Linked DNA regions of Homo sapiens. The protein of the gene in region 1 purifies or fractionates together with the protein of each later gene. This does not show direct contact. Each region holds a gene or a part of one and is shown on either strand. Other genes may lie near its edges. The genes, in order: THEM4, TOP3A, PRORP, PDSS2, SIRT5, NENF and PDSS1.

Evidence for each region.
Region 2: the proteins of THEM4 (region 1) and TOP3A purify together in Homo sapiens (affinity purification with mass spectrometry; 2 studies listed by BioGRID and IntAct, with this or other methods). This does not show direct contact.
Region 3: the proteins of THEM4 (region 1) and PRORP purify together in Homo sapiens (affinity purification with mass spectrometry; 2 studies listed by BioGRID and IntAct, with this or other methods). This does not show direct contact.
Region 4: the proteins of THEM4 (region 1) and PDSS2 purify together in Homo sapiens (affinity purification with mass spectrometry; 2 studies listed by BioGRID and IntAct, with this or other methods). This does not show direct contact.
Region 5: the proteins of THEM4 (region 1) and SIRT5 purify together in Homo sapiens (affinity purification with mass spectrometry; 2 studies listed by BioGRID and IntAct, with this or other methods). This does not show direct contact.
Region 6: the proteins of THEM4 (region 1) and NENF fractionate together in Homo sapiens (co-fractionation; one large-scale study listed by BioGRID). This does not show direct contact.
Region 7: the proteins of THEM4 (region 1) and PDSS1 purify together in Homo sapiens (affinity purification with mass spectrometry; 2 studies listed by BioGRID and IntAct, with this or other methods). This does not show direct contact.

Annotation. Positions count from the first base shown.
Region 1 is NC_000001.11:151,892,512-151,896,011, forward strand, and holds part of THEM4 (acyl-coenzyme A thioesterase THEM4), read right to left. Parts: intron 2,684-3,500; coding exon 2,497-2,683; intron 1-2,496. UniProt on the Homo sapiens protein: Has acyl-CoA thioesterase activity towards medium and long-chain (C14 to C18) fatty acyl-CoA substrates, and probably plays a role in mitochondrial fatty acid metabolism. Plays a role in the apoptotic process, possibly via its regulation of AKT1 activity.
Region 2 is NC_000017.11:18,273,962-18,276,994, forward strand, and holds part of TOP3A (DNA topoisomerase 3-alpha), read right to left. Parts: intron 1,020-3,033; coding exon 841-1,019; 3' UTR 1-840. UniProt on the Homo sapiens protein: Releases the supercoiling and torsional tension of DNA introduced during the DNA replication and transcription by transiently cleaving and rejoining one strand of the DNA duplex.
Region 3 is NC_000014.9:35,275,337-35,278,122, reverse strand, and holds the end of PRORP (mitochondrial ribonuclease P catalytic subunit isoform 1 precursor), read right to left. Parts: 3' UTR 501-2,786; downstream 1-500.
Region 4 is NC_000006.12:107,449,565-107,453,064, forward strand, and holds part of PDSS2 (all trans-polyprenyl-diphosphate synthase PDSS2), read right to left. Parts: intron 1-3,500. UniProt on the Homo sapiens protein: Heterotetrameric enzyme that catalyzes the condensation of farnesyl diphosphate (FPP), which acts as a primer, and isopentenyl diphosphate (IPP) to produce prenyl diphosphates of varying chain lengths and participates in the determination of the side chain of ubiquinone.
Region 5 is NC_000006.12:13,573,243-13,577,400, reverse strand, and holds the start of SIRT5 (NAD-dependent protein deacylase sirtuin-5, mitochondrial), read right to left. Parts: upstream 2,801-4,158; 5' UTR 2,657-2,800; exon of another isoform or gene 2,030-2,656; intron 1-2,029. UniProt on the Homo sapiens protein: NAD-dependent lysine demalonylase, desuccinylase and deglutarylase that specifically removes malonyl, succinyl and glutaryl groups on target proteins.
Region 6 is NC_000001.11:212,435,920-212,439,419, reverse strand, and holds part of NENF (neudesin precursor), read right to left. Parts: intron 1-3,500. UniProt on the Homo sapiens protein: Acts as a neurotrophic factor in postnatal mature neurons enhancing neuronal survival. Promotes cell proliferation and neurogenesis in undifferentiated neural progenitor cells at the embryonic stage and inhibits differentiation of astrocytes.
Region 7 is NC_000010.11:26,704,201-26,707,700, reverse strand, and holds part of PDSS1 (all trans-polyprenyl-diphosphate synthase PDSS1), read right to left. Parts: intron 3,025-3,500; coding exon 2,960-3,024; intron 2,416-2,959; coding exon 2,307-2,415; intron 502-2,306; exon of another isoform or gene 373-501; intron 1-372. UniProt on the Homo sapiens protein: Heterotetrameric enzyme that catalyzes the condensation of farnesyl diphosphate (FPP), which acts as a primer, and isopentenyl diphosphate (IPP) to produce prenyl diphosphates of varying chain lengths and participates in the determination of the side chain of ubiquinone.

The DNA.
Region 1 (3,500 bases):
CACATTTTTCCTCTTCATTTATAAAACAGAATAATTCTTCCCTCGAGATATATCAGAGATTCTGCAAAGAAACTTAAGAACTCTATAATTTTTCTTGATTAGTTTTATTTTTGTTTTATTCATTCCTTCAGCAAATACTAAAGTATCTACCATGAGGAAACTGAGGCACAGAAAGGTAAAGTGCCTTGCTCAAAGTTGCACAGCTTTAAATTGTGGAACCAGAATTTGAACCCAGGCACTAAATTTCAACCATTTAATTAAGAAGTTGTCAACTTCTGGATGGTCTCTAAAGCTGAGAGACTGCATGAGATTACCAATGGAGTGTGGAGAAGAGAGGAGTACTAAGGACTGAGACTTGAGGGCACCCCAACATGAAGGGTTTGAGGATGGGGAAGAGCCAGCCCAAGAAACTGAAAAGGAGGCACCAGTGAAGTGGAGAATGTGGTGTCCTAGAAGTTATGTTCAAACAGAAAGGAGTCAACAGCTGTGCCAAAAGCTGAGAGGTTAGCGGACTCAGCAACATGAAGGTCACTGGTACCTTTGGCAAGAGCTGTTTTGAGGGAGTGGGTTCAAGATAGGCTGGGCACAGTGGCTCATGCCTGTAATCCCCGCACTTTGGGAGGCCAAGGTGGGGCAGATCACTTGAATTTAGGAGTTCGAGACCAGCCCGGCCAACATTGTGAAACCCTGTCTCTATTAAAAATATAAAAATAAGCTGGGTGTGGTGGCATGCACCTGTAATCCCAGCTACTTGAGAGGTTGAGGTGGGAGAATCACTTGAACCCGGGAGGAGGAGGTTGCAGTGAGCCGAGGTCACGCCACTGCATTCCAGCCTGAGTGACTCAGTGAGACTCATTCTCAAAACCAAAAACAAAAAAAACAAAAAAACAACAAAACAAAAAAACCCAAAACAAAAGAGAGAGAGAGAGAGAGACTGGGAAGAGAGAAATGCAGTTGTGGCATGTTTATATGCTGATACGAAACATCTAGCAGAGATGGATGTCCTTCAGTAGGCCAAAGAAAATGGAATGCAGCGCACAAATGGAAGGCTTGGTCTCCCTAAGAGTGTGGATGGTTCACTCACAGCAGGAAGAAGCAGAACATCAGGCACAGATGCAGGGGGGAGGATATGTGAGGCAATGGGAGACTGGGAGTTCTCTTCTGACTGCTTTTATTTTCTCTTAGTGAGATAGGAAGCGAGACCAACTGAGGGTGAGAAGGGAAAGTATTAGAGGCATAAGAAGAAAGAAAAAGGCAGAAAATACTCATCCAGTAAGGGAGGAGAGTGAATAAACTAGGGAAACATGAAGTATGGTTGTTGGGCAATATTGAGAGCCTTCTTTTTCTCTTTTTTTTTTTGTAGGGGGGGAGACAGTCTCACTCTGTTGCCCAGGATGGAGTGCAGTGGCGCGATCTCAGCTCACTGCAACCTCTGCCTCCTGGATTCAAATAATTCTTCTGCCTCAGCCTCCCAAGTAGCTGGAATTACAGGTCCCCGCCACGAGGCCCAACTAATTTTTTTTGTATTTTTAGTAGAGACGAGGTTTCACCATGTTGGCCAGGCTGGTCTTAAACCCCTGACCTCAAGTGATCCGCCCGCTTCAGTCTCCCAAAGTGCTGGGATTATAGGCATGAGCCACGGTGCCTGGCCCAAGGGCCTTCTTAAAAGTCAGTTAAAAAAAACCAACCACCACCTAAAGATGTGTTTGGATGATTAAAAGATAATGAGTAACTCAGAAATATCTGTGAATGATTCAAATATACTATAATGATGGATATCTGTCATTACACAGTTGTTAAAACCCACGGAAAACATAATACGAAGAGTGAACCCTAAAACAAACTATGGACCTTAATTAAGAATAATATATTAATATTGGCTCATCAATTGTAACAAATACACCACAGTAATGTGAGATGTTAATAATAGGAGAAATTAGGGGTGGGGAGGGGATAAAGGGTATATGGGAACTCTCTGTACTTTAGGCTAATTTTTCTATAAAATTATAATGCTAAAAAAGTATATTAGTAAAAAAACACAGAAGGATAGGAATTGCTATGTGTGTGTTTTGGGTGTTGGGTGGGTTGCCCTGGGGATTTAGATACTGGGAGATGTGGGTATAACCTGAGTGTTCTAAGCTTCTTAGGGTGATATAACCAGATATGGGATAAAGGGTGAAATGAGATTAGATGACAGCCTCAAGACGGAGAGGTGATGAGGTTGTAGGAGGGTGGAAGCTCTCTGGGGCCCTTTCTTCACTCTTGCTAATGGTGATAAGAATGCCAGGGTGGGAGCAGTCTTATTCTTGACAATAGGCTTTATGCTCTCCAATCTGCAAAATTTATTGTGATTTCTGGTCTATAAAATTGGTGACTATAGAACCATAATCCTGCATTATATTCTTTCTTTTTTTCAGGTAGTAACTAGTACTTCAATCTGTTCTTAGCTTTATATTTGATGCTCAGATATATTAATGGGAAAGTGGCTGTTTCTACCAAGAAAATGGGTTTTGAAGTCTTGAATCCATTCAGTAGGTGTACGTTTATATGAAGGCAAACGTTTCCAGGAGCCGTCTTCACATTTCTTCATAAACTGGTCAAAGAGCAGTCTTAGGTCCTTGTTCCAGCTGGGGTTGGGGACAGAACAGTCCTTAAGAATGACTTCCTCAGAAGAAAATGACCTCTAAAAGACAGAAGAAAAAGAAAAGTAAGTAATGGGAGGTGCATTCTATTTCATAACATATTCTCCCAATTTCTAAGATTATCTTGCTGCTTTTCTTCTCCCCATAAGCTTGTCACTTCAAAATGGAAGGGAATTTCAGGGATCATCTGGTCCAACCTCCTTGGGAAAATGAGAGACTGAGAGAGGGAAAATGATTTGCTCAACATCACCCAGCGAGCTATTGACAGAGCCAGGATTATGCTCAGGTCTGCTGATTCCATTCTTTTTTTCCAGACTTTAATCAAGCACAGGTAAGCCCAGCACACTGGAGATGGAGGTTAAGAACAGGCATTATCTTCCATGTTGAAAGTGCTTCCAGTGGCTATGCACAGGAAGTTAGGGGATAAGGGAGAAGTACTCATCTAGGATTAGGGGTTCAGGAAGGGGTTCTTTGACTTGAATATTGATTAGATAAGCAGAAATTAGCCAGCTGGAAAAAGTATTACAGGAAAAAAAAAAAAAACACTGGAATATAGTTTGGATGTGTGTTCCCGCTCAAATCTCATATTGAAATGTAATCCCCAAAGTTGGAGGTGGGCCCTGGTGGGAGGTGAATGGATCATGGGGGTGAATTTCTCATGGACGGTTTAGCACCATCCTCCTCGGTACTGTCCTCATGATAGTGAGTTCTCATGAGATCTGGTTGTTTAAAAGTGTATAGTACCTTGTGCCTTGCACTCTTGCTCTTGCTGTGTCCATGTGAAGTGCCTGCTCCTGCTTTGCCTTCTGCCATGACTGTAAGTTTTCTTGCTTCCTTTTTTTTTTTTTTTTTTTTTTG
Region 2 (3,033 bases), on another chromosome or scaffold:
TTTTTGAGACTGAGTCTCGCTCTGTCGTCCAGTGGCGCAATCTCAGCTAACTGCAACCTCCGCCTCCCGGGTTCAAGCAATTCTCCTGCCTCAGCCTCCTGAGTAGCCGGGTCTACAGGCGCACACCGCCACACCTGGCTAATTTTTTGTATTTTAGTAGAGACAGGGTTTCACCATGTTGCCCTGGCTGGTCTCGAACTCCTGAGCTCAGGCAATCCGCCCCCCACAGCCTCCCAAAGTGCTGGGATTACAGGCATGAGCCACTGCACCCGGCCTGGGTTCTTTATTAAAGCAATGAATTCTGGATGTCCTGGCTTAACTAGATTAAGAGGGAATGAAGCTTCTTCTGAAGGATCAGTGTTACCACAGCCATTTCCTTGCATTACACCGTCCTTCTCAGGACGTCTATGAGAAGCCCTGGGCAGCCTGGACAGGGACTGCCCCATGAGTGCTGGTGGCTCACTTGGGGCTTTCTGCAGGTGAAGGAAGCAGCCCTGGGAGCTTCTTCCTTTGGCACACAGTGGGCTTCAGCTGGGACTGCACCAATCCTCTGCTAACAGCAACCATCCTTGGGGGGTCCGAGGGAGCAGCTGCGTGACTTTTCAGCAGTGGCTATGGTCACTCCTGAGGCCTGGGAAGAGGGTCACTGTCCAGCAGAGCTGGCCTGCTCCAGAGTGATCTGGACCTTGTGCCCCTTAACACAAGAAGGCCCGACTCCAAAGGCCAACACTGTCCTCTAAGTTTCCAGGACACTAAATGGCCACTTGGTCCTGGTTAACTCATTTCTAAACACAAAGGGGACAGGTCTGAGAAAGTGGCGTTCTCTACCCTACCCTGAGCTCATCTGTTCTGAGGACAAAAGGGACGGGTGTGTCCAGGCTGGTGGCAAAGGCTGCATTTCCGGGGTTTCTTTGCTGTGGACCCCATGTCTGAGGAACTGGCCCGGGGCCTTTTGCTTCTGGCTTCCGACTCCAGGGTTCTTCCTCTGTCTCCTGTCCAGGACGGGGCTCCAGAAGTCCCTGTCGGGAGAGTCAGGGGAGGGGTGAGGTTAGAACTGACATGCAGAAGTGGCAAGTCCTGAACACGGTGGCTCATGCCTGTAATCCCAGCACTTTAGGAAGCTGAGGGAGGAGGATTGCTTGAGCCCAGGAGTTCAAGATCAGCCTGGGCAACATGGTGAAACCTTGTCTTTAAAAAATGCAAAAATTAGCCAGGTGTGGTGTATGCCTGTGGTCACAGCTACTCGGGAGGATGCCTGAGCCTGGGAGGCTACAGTGAGCTGTGATCACACCACTGCACTCCAGCCTGGGCAACAGAGCAAGACCCTGTCTCAAAAAAAAAAAAAAAAAAAAAAAGAGCAGCAGACGATAAGGCTGAACCAACTTTTTTTTTTTTTTTTTTTTTTTTTGAGATGGAGTCTTCGCTCTGTCACCCAGGCTGGAGTGTGGAGTGCAGTGGCGTGATCTCCACTCACTGCAAGCTCCACCTCCCGGGTTCACGCCATTCTCCTGCCTCAGCCTCCCGAGTAGCTGGGACTACAGGCACCCGCCACCACGCCCGGCTACTTTATTTTTTGTATTTTTAGTAGAGACGGGTTTCATCATGTTAGCCAGGATGGTCTCGATCTCCTAACCTTGTGATCCGCCCGCCTTGGCCTCCCGAAGTGCTGGGATTACAGGCGTGAGCCACCGTGCCCGGCCTTTTTTTTTTGAGGTGGAGTCTGGCTCTGTCGCCTAGGCTGGAATGCAGTGGTGCAATCTTGGCTCACTGCAAGCTCCGCCTCCCGGGTTCACGCCATTGTCCTGTCTCAGCCTCCCGAGAGTAGCTGGGACTACAGGGACCGACCACCATGCCCGGCTAATTGTTTGTATTTTTAGTAGAGACGGGGTTTCACTGTGTTAGCCAGGATGGTCTCGATCTCCTGACCTCGTGATCCACCCGCCTCGGCCTCCCAAAGTGCTGGGATTACAGGCATGAGCCACCGCGCCCGACCGGCTGAATCAGTTTTTATACAGCCATGTACACCCCACCAGCCAGCCTCCCTTCACACTGTGTCCAACTCTGTAAGGTTGAGGTGCGATGTGCCTGCTGCCTTATGTTACCTGACACCTCTCCCTCAAGAATCCTAAGCTTTGGAGACATTGTCCCACACTCACTTGGTAAGTGGACTTTCATGCCGGCCCTTTTTACAGAGGCAGAAACCCAAGCAAGCTGGCCTGTGTGGTAGGGTGGGAAAGACAAGCAGCCTATGACCGGCAACCTGCGGCCCACCTCCATGCAGGAAAGTCCAGCTCTGGATCCCTTCCTGTCCCCTCAACAGGCCTTTCCAGACCAGCTGCTCATTTACCCAGGACAGTCAGTCAGCCAGCCTGGAGGTCAGATACCATGTCCTTCCAAGTGGGGAGACAAGAGGCCAGACTGCATCTCACTTCAAATGTGGGTCTCTCACTGCAATGGCCATCTCTGGGCCCCATTAGCACTGGTAGCCAGTTCCAAGTCCCACAGTTTTTACCAAACCTCTGGTTTCTTTCTGTGCATGCCGGGCTAGTGACACATGTGTAAGAATCATAGTCTGAGACTAAACTCCTTTCTAAAACAGGAACCCTATGAATGTAGGCAGGGACCATCTTGTTGAGCAAACTTGAGGCAGAGAGGCTAAGTCATTTGTTCAAGGTTATACTGCTGAGCTTTGGAACCAGATTTGCTCAACTCCAAAGCTCCCACTAGGCCTTTGGGTCATTCTCAGCTACTTAAGCTCTGTTGTGCACTGGAGCAGGAGGAACCATTCAAAGTGCCTCCACGTACACCATTCAACTTGATGCAATGTCCAGGTGCCACTTCTCATGACACCCAGTTCCCGGACATTGGCCCAAGCTGTGTCACCCTGGGCAGGTTCCTAAATATCATCGGGGTTGGCATCTTCATCTGAAGAAATGAGGCTGGGCCAGGCACGGTGGCTCACGCCTGTAATCCCAGCACTTTGAGAGGCCAAGGCAGGTGGATCACCTGAGGTGGAGTTCGAGACCAGCCTAA
Region 3 (2,786 bases), on another chromosome or scaffold:
ATCTGACCTGGTCTCATTAAAATGAATTAATGTCTATCATATTCAAAATTAAAGCCCCTACTATTGATTTCTCAAGTATTTGCTTCTTGGGCTGGCTTTTAAATAGCACTGAAGAGATGAGTGGGACAGTCATTTTAATGTGCTCGAAATTAACTCTCTACATCAAATTTCTTGTCAGAAGTTACCAAAACCTTCCTATGTTACTGCTATTTATAACAACAAATTACCACAGTTATCATAATAACTCGATCCATTAGATAAGAGTATACTTCTGAGGGCACTCTGGTAGCAAAATAATTTTTAGCTGCCATCAGTGACTAGATAATTGTCTTCCTGTTTATTTCCATTACCAGTTAAAAGCAAGTTGTGTATGTAGTAGAACCTCTGGAAGCACTCGTCAGATCAAATAATGCCAAAAAAACCCACAAAAACAAAAAACTAAACTTGGGGAGAGGGAACGTCAGGACATCATGAAAAAGCATAAATGGAGATGATAAAAGTAAAGATTATTTCTCAAATTTTATTACATTTATTCATCTGTGTTCCTGTCTCTTGTATTTTCATCCTGTTAATTTCTATGGCTTCCCCTCTGTAGAGCTCTAAATGGAACTTCCTTTGTTTATTTAGCACAGACTCAAGCAGACTGCTTGTCACTGGCCAGGACTGGGCAGGTAAAAGCTGGTCCTATTTCCTTTCTGCTCACTCCTAAGTGCCTTTTACAAATTTCCTTTCTTATTCTTGCTCCCCTCCTGCCTCCTGTAGGGCTGCTGGACTATAGATAGAGATGCCTCATTTCAGGCTGTGCGGGGTGACTCACACCTGTAATCCCAGCACTTTGGGAGGCTGAGGTGGGTGGATCACCTGAGGTCAGGAGTTTGAGAGCAACCGGGGCAACATGGTGAAAACCCGTCTCTACTAAAAATGCAAAAATTAGCCAGGCGTCATGGCGCATGCCTGTAATTCCAGCTGCCCGAGAGGCAGAGGCATGAGAATTGCTTGAACCCAGGAGGCAGAGGTTGCAGTGAACTGAGATCAAACCATTGCACTCCAGCCTAGATGAAAAAAGATCAAGACTCTGTCTCAAAAAAAAAAATAAATAAAAGTGAGAAATCTGCTAGAGGACCAAGGAAGCAGTAATTATATTTAAGTGCATACTTGAGAAGAAAAATTAATTTCCTATGAAGAATAAGCCACCTCAGATGAGGTAGACCCAACAGAGCCCTGAGAGAATAAACTCAGCCTTCTTCCTTGAGATTTTCTTTCCACTGGGTCTGAGAACAGCAGGAGGAAAAGTGTATAAATTCAGAATGCAAGGGGGAAGCACAAAGTATTTTAGAAATACTTTTAAGTGGCAAAGTCAATGCTCTTTCAAATCCTTCATTGTTCACAACTGATTTTAAAGATACTAACAATTTAAGAGTACAGCTTTTAAAATAATTCCTCCTTCTTGTGGTGTCCAGGAGCTTGCTTGACAGGTACCTTTTTTTCACTCAAATGATCAGAACACAAATGGGCAGCCTAAGTGTCTGGTACCAGCTGCTTCCTTCAGGGAATCCCTGCACTCCTCAAGGTCACCGTGGCAGTATGACTTATGCTGAGCAACCCTACAATGGTTCCCCACTCCTGGACAAGGGACAGATGCACTTCAGTTTATCTCAAGCAGAAGTTAGGGTTTTGTTTCTAAACAGTATTAGAGTTATTTTAAAATGTAATTTCTCTACCACAATGTTCTATACTGCTGAGCCATTCAGGATACTTGGGCCCTTAAAAGAGGTACACCCCTGTTCCTTCTTCTCATTCTTACCTCCCTCCCTTTGAGACAGGGTCTCACTCTGTCACCTAGGCTGGAGTGTAGTAGCATGATCATAGCTCACTGTAGCCTTGACCTCTGGGGCTCAAGTGATCCTCCCACCTCAGCCTTCTGAGTAGCTGGGACCACAGGCATGTGCTACCATGCCCAGCTAATTTTTAAATTTTTTGTCGACACGGGTCTCCCTGTGTTGCCTAGGCTGGTCTCCAACTCCTGGCTTCAAGCAATTCTCCCATTTGGCCTCCCAAAGTGCTGGAACTGTAGGTGTGGGCCACCATGCCCTGACTCCTCCCCCATCTCTATGTGCCAGTAGAAGAAAGAGTATTTGGGAATTAGAAGAGCTGGGTTATGGCTGAAATGTCTGCACTAACTAGCCGTGGGATTCAGGGAAGCCAGGTCATCTTCCTGGGTCTGTTCCTCATCTCCAAAATGGACTTTACATGCTCTAAGGTTACTCCTGCTCTAAAGTTCTAGTTTTCTTCTTGTAGCTTCTCCCGTCTTTTTTTTTTTTTTTTAAGAGACAGGGTCTTGCTATGTTGCCCAGGTTGGTCTCCAACTCTGGGCCTAAAGTGATCCTCCTGTCTTGGCCTCCCAAAGTGCTGGAATTAACAGGTATGAGCCACCACTTCGGCCTCCTCCTCTATCTCTATGTGCTCCTTTTTTGGGAATTTGCATTAGCCTTTTAGATGGGCTTAATAAATACTTTTTGTCTTCTTAAAATGTTTTTCTTAAAACTATGATAGTTACTTAAAAAAAGAAGTTTAGCTCACTGAAAGCACAGTTTCCTAAGTATGTAGTTTATGAAATTTGGAAAATAAGCAGACTGAATTTATTAGAGCTTTTGCAGTATCTTTTAATGCTCTCAATATATCCAATGTTTTCCTGGAGAGCTCTTTTGTCTTGGTGTGCAGTAATGTTGCATTCAGTAAATAGGTAAGAAGATAAAACGTCCCCTCCTTGGATTTTCCTAAATTGT
Region 4 (3,500 bases), on another chromosome or scaffold:
CTTATTTCACTTAGCATAATGTCCTCCATATTTCACTCAGCATAATGTCCTCCAGGTTCATCCATATTATGACACGTGTGCAACCTCAAACACGTGGGCTCAAACGATCCTCCCACTTTGGCCTCTAGAGCAGCTGTCTAGCCAACTTATTTTTAGGAGCCACCATGTCTAGTTAATTTATTTTTTTATAGAGATGGGGTCTCACTGTGTTGCCCAAGCTGGTCTCAAACTCCTGGCCTCAAGTGATCCTCCCACCTCAGCTTCCCAAAGTGTTGGGATTACAGGCATGAGCCACTGTGCCTGGTCCCTCCTTGTTTTTTAAGGCTGAATAATATTCCATGGTAATATATACCACATTTTGTTAATCCTATCAACCATCAATGGACAACTGGGTTGCTTCTACCTCTTGGCTACTGTGAATACTGCTGCTATGAACATGGGTATACAAATATCTCTTTGAGACACTGCTTTCAATTCTTTTGGAAACACACCCAGAAGCAGAATTGTTGGGTCATATGGTAATTCTATTTTTAATTTTTTGATGAATGAGATTGACTTTTTTCACTCAGAATAATTCATCTGAGATTCACCCAAGTTGTTGTATCAGTGGTTCATTTCTTTTTATTGTTGGGTAGCATTTCGTTGTTATGTATGGACCACAGTTTGTTCAACCACTCACTAGGATATGTGGGTTGTTTCCAGTTGGGAAATAATTAAAGACAGAATTAAAACAGTATAACAAACAGTATATATGTAGAGGATAAATTAAAGAAAGGAAAACTATGAATGTAGGGGGAAGAATGTTGAGGAATCAATTCACAATGACCAACTACAAAATTCCAACATGAGAGAGAAAAATGGTGGGAACCATGATACTGAAGAAATAACACACAAAATCATCCCAAAATAAAGGATATAGGATTAAGTTAAGAAGGCCTTCATTCTCCACTCCAAAAACCATCAAGGTGAAATTATGGAACATCATTCTAAAGAAAGGATCTTTCCTCTAGAAAGAACACACAGCCCTATCCAAGCTGTGGAATGAAAATGGCATTAATACAAGAAACTTAACTGCAAAGGAGAAATACATATATGTAGGATTTTCAACCTATAATTCTATAGGTTATGGCAGCCTATTACAAATAAGACTGCCACAAACATTTGTGTATAGGTTTTGGTATGGACATAAGTTTTTATTTCTCTGGAATAAATGCTCAGGAGTCTGATTGCTGGGCTACATGGTAAGTGTATGTTTAAACTGATTGATCAATCAACTGATTGATTGAGACAGGGACTGACTCTGTCACCCACGCTGAAGTGCAATGGCACGATCATGGCTCACTGCAGCCTCCAACTTCCGCGCTCAAGTGATCCTCTTACCTCAACCTCCCAAGTAGCTGGGACCACAGGTGTGCACCACCACACCCAACTAATTTTTTATATATTTTGTAGAGACAGCATTTTGCCACATTGCCCAGGCTGGTCTTGAAATCCTGGACTCAAGTGATCTGCCTGCCTCAGCCTCCCAAAGTGCTGGGATTACAGGCGTGAGCCACTGTGCCCAGTCGTATGTTTAATTTTATAAGAAATTGTTATGCTGTTTTCCAGAGGGGCCGAACCATTTTACATTCCCATCAGCAATGCATGAGAAATCTAGTTTATCTGCATCGTTACTAGAATTACATATTATATTTTTTATTTTAGCCATTCTAATTGGTACATAGTAGTATCCCATTGTTGGTAGAAGAGCTGAGGCAGGACTGGCTTGTCTGTCATAATGTAAAAGAGTCTTGGAAGATGTCCGGGATCCAGGGTCTGAAACCCCTCGTGGCCTTTGGAACACCAAGCTCTGTGCCAAAGGGTGGAAGGCTACACTGCCGCACCACAAATCTAAGCCCAGGGCATAAAACCCCTTGTGGCTTTGATGGAATCCAGGGCTCAGGGCATAAACCCCTCGTAGCCTCTGGAATGTGCACAGACTTGTTGGTTCCTTGCTTCTTTCTTGTAAACATGCCCTCCATTATCTCAAGCAGCAGAGCATATTCTATATGGGTCAAAGGAAGTGCTAAACCGTCACAGCTACACTTAATGCACCACTACCTTTCTACTCTCACCTCCTCATGCCCTCACCTGTTTACCCTCATGTCCTCACCACCTGCTTCTTTGTTTGATCACCAATAAATAGGGCGGGTTCCCAGAGCTCGGGGCCTTTGCAGCCTCCAATCTAGCGCTGGCCCTCTGGACACACCTTATGAACTCTTAACTTGTCTTTTCTCATTCCTTTGACCCCGCCAGACTTTGTAGCCCTCAGGGCCTGGTGTTGGGCCCGATCACCTCAACATCCCATTGTGATTTTAATTTGCATTTCCCAAAAGGCTAATAATGTTGAACATCTTTTCATATGCTTACTTGCTACCTTTATAGGTTTTTCTTTTAGCCCATTTTCTTTTCTTTCTTCTTCTTTTTTGTTTTTTAAGTGACAAAGTCTTGCTCTGTTGCCAAGGCTAGAGTGCAGTGGTACAATCATAGCTCACTGCAGCCTTGAAGTCAAACTCTTGGGTTCAAGGAAGCCTCCTGCCTCTGTTTCCCTAGTAGCTGGGATTACAGGCATGCACCACCGCACAAGCTTTTTCCCCTATTTTCTAATTGTATTGTTTGCTTTCTTGAGTTTAGAGAGTTCTTTTTTTTTTTGCAACAGAGTGTCACTCTGTTGCCCAGGCTGGAGTGCAGTGCCGCGATCTCACTGCAACCTCTGCCTCCCAGATTCAAGTGATTCTCCTGCCTAAGCCTCTGGTGTAGCTTGAACTACAGGCACCCACCACCACACCGGCTAATTTTTGTATTTTTAGTAGAGACAGGGTTTCACCATGTTAGCCAGGCTGGCCTCAAACTCCTAGCCTCAAGTGATCCACCTGCCTCGGCCTCCCAAAGTTCTGGGATTACAGGCATGAGCCACCGCACCCAACCTCTTGAGTTCAGAGATTTCTTTACATAACCTGGATACAAGCCCTTCTTTGAATATGTGATTTGCAAATATTTTCTCCCAGTCTGTGGCTAAACTTTTCACCCTCTTTACAGGGTCTTTCACAGAGCTAAGTTTCAAACTTTTTTTTTTTTCTTGAGACAGAGTCTCACTCTGTCTCCCAGGCTGGCTTGCTGTGGCGCAATCTCGGCTCACTGCAACCTCCGCCTCCCAAGTTCAAGCGATTCTCCTGCCTCAGCCTCCTGAGTAGCTGGGATTACAGGTGCACATCACCACGCCCAGCTAATTTTTGTATTTCTAGTAGAGATGGGGTTTCACCATGTTGGTCAGGCTGGTATCGAACTCCTGACCTTGTGATCTGCCCGCCTCGGCCTCCCAAAATGCTGGGATTACAGGCGTGAGCCACCACGCCTGGCCAGTTTTGAACTTTTATGGAGTCCAATTATTGTTTTCTTTTATGAATTTTTTGGTGTCATGTCTAAGAACTGCTTACCTAGCCCTAGGTCCTGAAGATGTT
Region 5 (4,158 bases), on another chromosome or scaffold:
ATTAAAGAAAAAACCACTTCAGGTAAATTTAACCAAAGATATAAGACCTGTACACTGAAAACCATAAAACACTGATGTGAGAAAAGAGACACAAATAAGTAAAAAGGTATCCCATGTTCGCGGATTAGAAAAATTAATGGTTGTTAAAGTGTCCATACTACCCAAAGCAATCTACAGATTCAATGTAATCTCTATCAAAATTCCAATATCATTTTTCACAGAAATAGAAAAAACAATCCTAAAGTTCATATGGAATTGCAAAAGACCCTAAATAGCCAAAGCAGTCTTGAGTGAAAGGAACAAAGCCAAAGGCATCACACTCCCTAATCTCAAAATATATTATAGGGCCATTGTAATCAAAACTGCATGGCACTGGCATAAAAATCGGCACATCAACCAATGGAACAGGAATAGAAAGCCCAGAAATAAGCCCAAGTATTTACAGTCAATTGATTTTTGACAAAGGTGCTAAGAACACACAATGGGAAAAGGAAAGTCTCTTTAATAAATGGCATCAGGAAAACTGAATATCCACATGCTGGATAACAAAATTGAGTCCTTATCTCACACCATATACAAAAATCAACTCAAAATAGATTAAAGTCTCAAACATAACACCTGAAACTGTAAAACTAATAGAAGATAACATAGGTGAAAACTCCATATTAGTCTGGGCAATGATTTCTTGGATAGGACCCCAAAAGCAACAAAAGCAAAAATAGACACATGGGATTGCATCAAACTAAAAAGCCTCTGCACAGCAAAGAAAATAATTAACAGAGTAAAGAGACAACCCACAGACTGGGAGAAAATATTTGCAAACCATGCATCTGATAAGGGGCTCTTATCTAAAATATATAAGAAACTCAAAAAACTCAACAGCAAAACAAAACAAAACGAATAACCCGGTTAAAAAATGGACAAAGAACCTGAACAGGTATTCCTCAAAAGAAGACATATGAATGGTCAACAAATACATGAAAAACGCTCAACTTTGCTAACCACCAGGGAAATGCAAATTAAATCACACTGAGCTACCACCTCACGCTTGTTAGAATGGCTATTATAAAAAAGATCAAAGACAACAAGTTTTGTCCAGAATGTGGAGAAAAGGGAACCCTGGTACACTGTTGGTGGAATGTAAATTAGTACAGCCATTTTGGAAAACAGTATGGAGGCTCCTCAAAATCTAAAAATAGAATTACCACATGACCCAGAAATCCTACTTCTGGGTATATATACAAAGGAATTGAAATCAGTATGTTGAAGAGATAGCTGCATTCCTGTGTTGTTTTCAGCATTATTCACAATAACCAAGATATAGAAGCAACTAAGTATCCATCAACTGAGGACCGGATAAAGAAAATGTGGCACATATATACAATGGAATACTATACAGTCTTAAAACAGAAGGCAATTCTGTCATTTGCAACAACATGGATGAACCTGGAGGACATGAGGCCAAGTAAAATAAGCCAGGCACAGAAGGACAAACAGCACATGATCTTACTTATATACTTGGGGTCTAAAAAAGTTGAACTCATAGAAGCAGAGTAGAATGATGGTTACCAGGGGCCTGGCAGAGGGCTGATGTGGAAGGGAGGGATGTTGGTCAAAGGATACAAAGTTTTAGTTAGGTAAGAGGAGTAAGTTTTAGTGATCTACTGCACAGCATGGTGACCATAGTTGATGATGTATTGTATATTTCCAGGAGAGTAGATTTTCACCACAAAAAATAAGTAGGTGAGGTGATGGATATGTCAATTAGCTTGATTTAATCTTTCTACAATGTATACATATATCAAAACATTACACTGTACGCTATAAATATATAAATTTGTCAATAAAAATAATTATATAAATATATATTTATATAAAACAAAATACATGCTAAGGATAATGCAATGAACTGCAAAAAGTTGTACAGGCTCCCAATAAATAATTTTTGAACGCCTAAGAGCTAAATAAATGCAATACATCACTCCCAGGTGTCTCCACTAGGGGGCCCCATTCCCTCCCGTTCCATCACCTGCTTTCCTCAAGGTCGTCTCCACCCTCCTATTTGTTGATACCCGGCCTCTGACCCAGTTCATCACTTTCCCGGGCTTCCGGGCGCCACCCTCTTCAGGTTTTCCTCCTACCCCTCCAGCCCTGCCCCTCTGGATCTCCCATCCTCCCAGCGCGCCAGACTGCATGCGGCCTCCCCGCCCTGTGTCCAAGAGGCAGCTTCCACTCCACGCGGGCAAGCCTGAGCTCCAGAGCCGTCCTCAAGCCGCCTCCCCCCGAAGCACTGGGACTTCATCCTCCCGGCTACTACTCGTGCCCAGGGACTAGGCCCTGAGCCTTCCCTTCTCGCACGCCCCATAGCCAAGCTGCTCAGCAGAACCTGACGGCTCCACCTTCAAACTACGTCCGGAATCCGACCCCTCTCCACGCCCACTGCCTCCACCCCGGCCACCTTCCTCGGTCACCCTGGCAGCTGCAATGACCAGGGTGACCTTTCTGAAAAGGGAGGCTCTGTTCGGAGCCCTCGCGGGGCTCCCCAGCACAGCGGCCTCCCATGCCCACCTGCTCGGGTGGGATTACTTTCCAACCCCGTTTCCATCCCCCTCCCTGGTCTCCAGCCGCAGCGACCCCCACGCAGAGCCCGGAAGACCTTGGGCCCCGCACATGCTGCCGGCCCGCTAAGAGCTCTGGGTACCCCCGGAGCGCCTTCCAGGCTTTCTCCTAGAGGCGCTGTGTCCCGACCGCGCTCCGGACCTGAGCCACGGCTCACCTGGGGCAGCTCGCGCCCCCGAATACAGTCTCCCACGCCCCGCCCCCCGGGGTGCCTCCCTCCCAGCTCTCTGTACCCACCCACCATCCCCCACATCCCTTCCTCCAACCGCTAGCCAGTCACCAGCCCGGGACCGCAGGGCAGAGGCCGGGCCGCGCATGCGCACCGCGGACCGGTGCCACCTCCGCTCGCGAGCCCGCGGCAGGCCCTGGGCGGTGCGCGCAGTCCCGCGAGAGCAGTGCTTGGTCGGGACCTCGAAGCCGGAGCCCGAGCGGGAGAGGCCGCGGAGACCCCGGCCCGGCGCAGGCAGAGACGCACCTGCGGGAGGCGGGCGCGCCGGCTGGAGAGGAGGCCGTGGGGCGGAGCGGCTCAGCGTTCTGCTCGGCTGCAGCGGCCCCTGCCGGAGACCCGGGCGCCGTGGTCTTCTTTATAATTGAAGGATTGTCTCTCTGTTTTTATTTGGGGTGGGGGTGGGGGTGGGGGGCGGCGCAGTGACTTGCTTCGACTTTGTCAGCTTCCAGGGTTCATTCCACTGCCCAAATATGTAGTGAGTTACTACCGGCTTTGCTTCCTCCTTCAGCAAACGGCTGGACCACACAACTTCAGGAGAGAGGATTTTAAATGTTAGGGTCATTTTCCCTAAAACGATTTCAAATGACGGTGAGTTGGTTCCCAGGCTAGGCCACCTAACCTCGAACGCAATGACGAGTGCACTCTGACTGCTGAGCTGAGAGCCTTCCGTGGCTCTGGGACCCAGTGACTCACGTGGCTCCGCATGTCCCCGTTCCCTTAAAATCGGAGTCTTTCCTTTTCTTGGATTCCGGCTTGCCACCAGCACCACTTGGCAGAATGGAATTGCTTGCGGGCATGTCAGTGGACTAGAAAGGGAAGTAAGTGGTCTGAGAACTTGGGGGCCAAAAATGTTACATTAACATTTTTTGCCTACCTAAAATCTCAGCCACTTCCCACAGTTTGGCTGGAAATTCAGCCCATGTTGAGGCCCTTCTCATTCCTGCAGGTGTTACCAGCAACTCAGAGGTTTATGGAGTAACGAAATTGGGGAGGGCCTCACATCCGGCTGCTGTTTTTCCCCCTAACGTGTATGGTGCTTATTCTGAGCCAGACACTTTTAAGAACTGCACATTATTAACCATTTTAAATCGTCCCCACCACCTGATGAAATAGGTACTGTTATCCCCACTTTATGGGTGGGGAAACCGAGGCCCAGGGAGGTCAAGTAACTGCGCAAAGCACAAAACTGTTGAGTAGTAGTGTTACCAGGGCAGTCCTGGAGAAATCGCTCAGAGGGCAAAACTGAGAGCTCATTATTTTCTTAAACAGTAGACAGCTGAAAATGCTCATTGTTTTTTAAACCGTTTTGT
Region 6 (3,500 bases), about 61 Mb from region 1:
CAGACGTGTGCCACCATGCTTGGCTAATTTTTTTTTTTTTTGTATTTTTAGTAGAGATGGGGTTTCTCCATGTTGGTCAGGCTGGTCTTGAACTCCCAACGTGAGGTGATCTACCCGCCTCGGCCTCCCAAAGTGCTGGGATTACAGGCGTGAGCCACTGCACCCAGCAATCTCCTTTTTTTAACAGTAAAATTTTTATCTCCTCCTTAAACTACTTACTTGAAGGTGTAAGTGCGAAGAGGAAGTCATATTATAGGGGAAGAAAAGAATGTTTAGCATTTTTGAGGCCTCAGAGTGACATAGATACCTCATATGCCATGCAGAGGAATGGTCTTATCAGTAAACAGAGCGTGCTGTGGTGGTGAGTTCTGACCCAGTGTAGATGAACATCCATGGATAGCACAACCCCCAGGCACAGACTCTCAGGCCTGGGAAATGACAACTGAGAAGGTGGAGGGTGGGTGGAAGGCTTGGGAGTATAAATGCAGACACAGGAATAGAAGTGACACAGAAACAGCCAGGCATGGTGGCTCCCAGCACTTTGGGAGGCTGAGGTGGGCAGATGACTTGAGGTCAGGAGTTTGAGACCAGCCTGGCCAACATGGTGAAAACCTGTCTCTACTAAAAATACAAAAATTAGCCGGGTGTGGTGGCAGGTGCCTGTAATCCCAGCTACTGGGGAGGCTGAGGCAGAATTGCTTGAACCCGGGAGGCGGAGGTTGCAGTGAGCCAAGATCACACTACTGCACTCCAGCTTTGATGACAGAGCAAGACTCTGTCTCCAAAAAAAAAAAAAAAAAAATACAGACACACACACGCAAAACAAAACAAAATCAGCCACTGCACTCCAGCCTGGGTGACAGAGTGAGACTTTGTCTCAAAAACTAAACTAAAATAAAATAATCTTGTAAGGCAGTTATTACTATACCCATTTTGTAGGTGAAGAAACTGAGGCTTAGAGTTTACATAACCTGTCAATGGTTTCTCTGCTGGTAAATAAAAAGTCAGGATTCAGACTCATACCTGTCTGATTCTAAGCCTTTGCCCTTCCTAGGGCAATTCTTCCTTATTGAAAACTTGAATACCAATCTCTGGCCTGCAATCTGTAGACAGTGAAACCCTGCTATCATAACAGGTGTGTGACAAGGCAAAAGCTACCGGTGAACATGTGCAAGCAATATCTCTACCTATCAGGGCAATTTTGACAGGAGTTGAAGAAAACAAGCGCCAAAGAAAGGCACTCTGGAACACACTACCTTTTTTTCCTCTATTTTCAATTTTGTTCAACACACTCACTTTATAACCTGTTATCTACATAAGAGGTCCTCAAAATCACCTCTTCTGTACAACCCTTACTAGAATTACTGGGAGAATGGAGTTCTAAAGAAGCACCAAGGAGATGCTGTCCAGATTTTTTTTCTTTTTTAAAATAGAGACAAGGTCTCACTACGTTGCCCAGGCTGGTCTCAAACTCCTGGGCTTAAGCGATCTTTCCAGCTCGGCCTCCCAAACTGCTGGGACTACAGGTGTGAGCCACCACACCCCGCCCAGATTTTCAGCAAGCATTCGAAGAGGACTAATGTATACCAAAGATTTTTCTATTCCCATATGTGAATGATTTAGGGAGCCTTGGATCACTCTGAGGCCCTACAATGCCTAAAAGGAAAGAACTGGCTCTTGGTGCAGTAGATCCAGAACACAGTGTGGCTCTGTGAAAGACACTGACAGCCAGGACACCCATGCTTCACGGATTTCCCATCTGAAGCTGCCACTGGAGAAACTACGCAAATCCCTGTGTGGGTGTCTGAGCTCTCTCACCTTGAACCACACAGTGGGATGTGTGACTGATAGAGGCGGGTCTGCCTTGGCTCTCATCCAAGAAAGAAGGTTTTTTTATATCTAGTAGAAGCAAGTCACTCATTGCTAGATGTTTCAGAAAGCCTTGTTACACAGGTCCACAATCCCACAGCAGAAACTCTTGGGGGTCAGACATGTTTTCAATATGAAAATATGTCAGATTTTAGAAAGGTGTTATGGGGAACATACCATATATTATGCAATACCTCTAGGGAGGTCCAAGGCAACACCCATAATCAAGTATGTTAGTATTTCTCCAGTGAAACATGAACATTCACAGTAAATGGGATAAAGACTAACGTAGACTCATAGCAGCTCCAACAAGGTTCTGTCATCAAGTGATTTCAGATCAAGCTGGGTTTTTCTGTCAAATGACTTGTGAAAAACAAAAATGTCTAGGTTTCAGAGTTTATTAGATTTCTGTAGTGCATGAAAGGACCGTGGACCTGTTATAATGCCTCTTGCTTGTATCTTTAATAAGGTAATAAAAAATAATAGTAGCTAACATTTATTAAGACTTACGGTGCTAAGCCCTATTCCAGGCCTACGCTAAGCCTGTGCACACCACCATCTCATTTAATGCAGGCATTCACAAAACACCTGCTTAGAGTAGGAACTCTTTTTTTTTTTTTTTTTTTGGTAGAGGTGAGGTCTTGTTATGTTGCCTAGGCTGGTCTCAAACTCCTGGCTTCAAGCAATCCTCCTGCCTCGACCTCCCAAAGTGAGTGCTGGGATTACAGGTGTGAGCCACCACACTCAGCCAAGTAGGAACTCTTATTATAACCATTGTGATGATTTATTTTATGTGTCAATTTGCACAGGTTACTGTACCCAGTTATTCAATCAAATACTCACCTAGATATTGCTGTGCATCTACAATCAATTGGCTTTATATAAGGAAATAATCCCAGATAATCTGGGTGGGCCTAATCTCATAATCGAAAGACCTTAACAAGGCTGGGTACAGTGGCTTACGCCTGTAATCCCAGTACTTTGGAAGGCTGAGACGGGTGGATCACGAGGTCAGGAGTCCAAGACTAGCCTGGCCAAGATGGTGAAACCCTGTCTCTACTAAAAATACCAAAAGTAGCTGGGCATGGTGGTGGGCGCCTGTAATCCCAGCTACTCGGGAGGCTGAGGTAGAGAACTGCTTGAACATGGGAGGCGGAGGTTGCAGTGAGCTGAGATCACACCACTGCACTCCAGCCTGGGAAACAGAGCAAGACTCCGTCTCAAAAAAAAAAAAAAAAAAAAAGACCCATGGGCTACAGCATCTGCTCCTGCCTGAGGGCTTCCAGCCTGCCCCTTCTGATAGCCTGCTCTATGTATTTCCAATTTGCCCAGCCAGCCCCCGCTATCGTGTAAACCAATCCTTATGATAAACCATTTATCTATCTATATATAGTTGACCCTTGAACAACACAGGTTTGAACTGCATGGGTCCACTTATATGTGGGTTTTCTTCCACCTCTGCCACCCCTGAGATAGCAACACCAACCACTCCTCTTCCTTCTCAGGATGCAGACCTTTATAATGATCCACTTTCACTTAATAGTAAATATATTTTCTCTTCTTTATGATTTTCTTAGTAACACTTTCTTTTGTCTAGCTTACATTACTGTAAGAATTCAGTATATAATACA
Region 7 (3,500 bases), on another chromosome or scaffold:
ACAGATATATAAGGAAGAGAGAGAGGAGGGGGCCCACGGAACCCCAGGGAATGGCAAAATTAAAGGAAGTGAGCTGGAGGTGATGAACCGAAGAAAAGCCTCAGGATAAGGAGGGGGAACAAAGTGCAGAGTGAAGGGAACCATGTTTCAAGGAGGGGTTACAGTCAATAGTGCCCAATGGTCAGAAAACCAGGAAGTGTCCGTTACAGTAGATAGCTAGTCAGGCATGAGCAGGGCAGGAGAGGGCTCCCCGACCCACAACAGGAAGGCGACCATCACGTGATGGTCAAGCAGTTGTTAACTGTGTCGCTAAAATACTAATTGGTCACAGCTGGTGCCAAGGGACGGCAGTCTCTCAATAGATACAAAAACCTGAAACTGGTGATCAGCTTCCCAATAAGATCTCGGGAGTTGGGTGAGTCGGCTCAACCATGCACACTAAGAGGCAAAATGGCAGAGCTTAATTGGTGTATGTCCTTCTAGGAAAACTGGGACTGGTATGGGAAGAATGCCTCACGTGAGCATGCGCAAAACTCCGGTAAACACACTGAGCATGCTCCCCTCCCCAACACTGGCGGGCCACTGCGCATGCGGGCAGCCCACCCCAAGGGAAGAATCCGGGGAGACGGGATGCAAGTCCCTGGAAGTATGCCAACATCTAAAACCCAAATTCCAAGGTCAAACCACACACTTTCTCTCAGGTCACCAGCTTGGCCCTCTTACAAGTGTACTTTACTTCCTTCCCTTCCTACTCTACACTTAATAATAAACTTTCTCTCCTGCTCTAAAACTTGCCTCCGTCTCTCCTTCTGCCTTAGGCCCCTCAGTCGAATTCTTTCTTCTGAGGAGGCAAGAATTGAGGTTGCTGCAGACCTGTACAAATTTGCTGCTGGTAACACATCCATTGGATTTAGCACAGGGAAGCTATCAGTGACCCAAGCAAAACCAGCTTCAGAGGAGAGGCTGGAAAGGGGGCCCCAGTGCAATAGTGGAGGGAACATGAAGGCACTGGAGGAAGGCAGAGGGCAGGGGATACTGTGAGGGAAGGGAGGGAGTGAAGCACTGGGTCAGTGGATGGGCCTTTTAAAAATGCAGGTGAAGAAACTGAACACCCAATGGATATGGAAGACCATGCCAATGAAAGTTTGCAGACAGAGGGAGAGGCCATGTCTGGGGGAGTTCCTAAGAAACTAGGGAGGTTGGCTAAGGGACTGCCCCTAGAGAGGGAAGGGACATGACTTCCACGGGTGGGAGGAGAGCAGGCAATCGCCAGAGAAGGCGCAGGCAAGCTGGCCAATTGCGACAGAGCAGGAGCTGAAGGAGTTCTTCCTCCACAGCCCCTACTGTCTGTGAAACAGGAAGTGGTGTCCTCTCAAAGTGCTAGGATTATAGGTGTGATCCACCGTGCCCAGCCAATTTTTTTCTAAAGACAGAAAAAATGTCTTGCTCTCTCACTCAGGCTGGAGTGCAATGGCGGGATCATGGCTCACTGCAGCCTCAAACTCCTGGGCTTAAGCAGTCCTCTTGCTTTGGCCTCCTAAATTGGTGGGATTACAGGCACGAGCCACGGTGCCCAACCACGTGAGGTTGGGAACTACTGAAAGTTTTCAGGAAAAAGAGTTGAATGAAGAAAGCCATATTTGGGGCAGACTGGCAATGACATTCAGAATTAGATAAGGAAGAGACAGCTGGAGTCACTGGGAGGTGGTGGGTTTTAAGAGGAAAGGTGGGATAACTCATTGGACAAGCATGAGCTACCTGGACCATTTTTTTCCTTCAGGTTCCCAACCCTGCCATAACCTCTTTCTGGACATAAATACATATTGCATTCTTCATATTGCCTGGCACTGGGTCATATGTATTCTTCTCAAGAAACATTTGAAACTTGACCATACGTCAATCAAGATTGCAAACTGCATTGTACAGATCTGAAAACCTGCACTGTTTTTTTGTAATCCCAGCACTTTGGGAGGCCAAGGTGGGTAGGTCACCTGAGGTCAGGAGTTCAAGACCAGCCTGGCCAACATAGCAAAACCCCGTCTTCACTAAAAATACAAAAATTACCCAGGTGTGATGGCGCATGCCTATAATCTCAGCTACTCAGGAGGCTGAGGCAGGAGAATTGCATGAACCTGGGAGGCAAGGGTTGCAGTGAGCTTAGATTGCACCGCTGCACTCAAGCCTGGGCAACAGAGTGAGACTCCAGCTCAAAAAATAATAATAATTATAAGAATAAAAAATAAAATAAAATTTTAGTAAGTTTTGGTAAGCTAAAACATTACATCACAGCAGAATAAAAAACTCACCTTTCTAATGTCCTCATACAGACCTTTCAAGTCTCTCCAACCGAGTTTGAAAGGATCGGTGTATTTTTCACCACTGTGTGTTTTACTGTCTGGGGTTGTGTGATGAAACCTGGGACATGCAAAAATGCACATGACTTCATTTTCAAGTAAGTTTTATATACATATATATTTAGTAGACTCAGATACGGAAAATTCAGCCCAAATATTTGCTAGAAATTAATCATGAATCTGAAAAGGTCATTATAATTTGGAAAAACATACAGAATTCTATTCTTGCTAAATGACAGATCAATAGATCACTTTTATAAATAGGGCCTTGAGAACCCACAAAATCAAAGAAAAACTAAACTATGTTCATTGTGCTCTGGGTTGAGCTCAAACTTTATTATATTCCTGTTTTTTGAATAGGCAGAGATCTACAATTTAGAATAGAAATTTACAGGCAATATAATTAATAATTTTAGGCCGGGTGCTTATGTCTGCAATCCCAGCACTTTGGGAACCTGAGGGTGGGAGGATAGCTTGAGGCCAGCAGTTCAAGACCAGCCTGGGCAACACAGTGAGCTCCCCATCGCTACAAAAAAAATTTTTTAAACAACAATAAATTTAAAAATGGATAATTTTAGTAGTTGCAGTATGGACTGTAAACTTACCGTGATATACGACATACATTTGGACAGGCAGATGTTAAATGCTTCACAAGATTAATATAGGGTATCTATAAAATAAAAATGTCAAGAAACTTGTAAGAATATTCCTGAAAAACTGTAACATTGGATGATAAAACCCCCATAATTATAATCTTTATCTTCTAATCACCCATTTACAGGTAGATTGCAAACTTTAGAGGAAGAATAATTTTAAAGTTTCCTTTTGTTATTACAAAATACTTGTCATTGCAGAAAACATAAATAAGAAAAAAGGAGAAAATAAAAACCATCTTCAGTCCATCCCTTCCCCCAAAGAAAGCCATTTCCATATTCATATCTATCTTTCCAGACCTGAAAATTAGTTTTAAAACAATTTCCTTCCATTTAACTAAGATTGGTCAGAGGAAAAAAGATTTCAATAGCAAGGAAGGAATTTATATTTATACAAACACTGTCTATTTTAAGTTCGTGTTCCTCAACATCCTTTGGAAATGGGAGAACAGAGTTTGAAAGCACACAAACCAGGGTGTTAAAAGTAGTTATT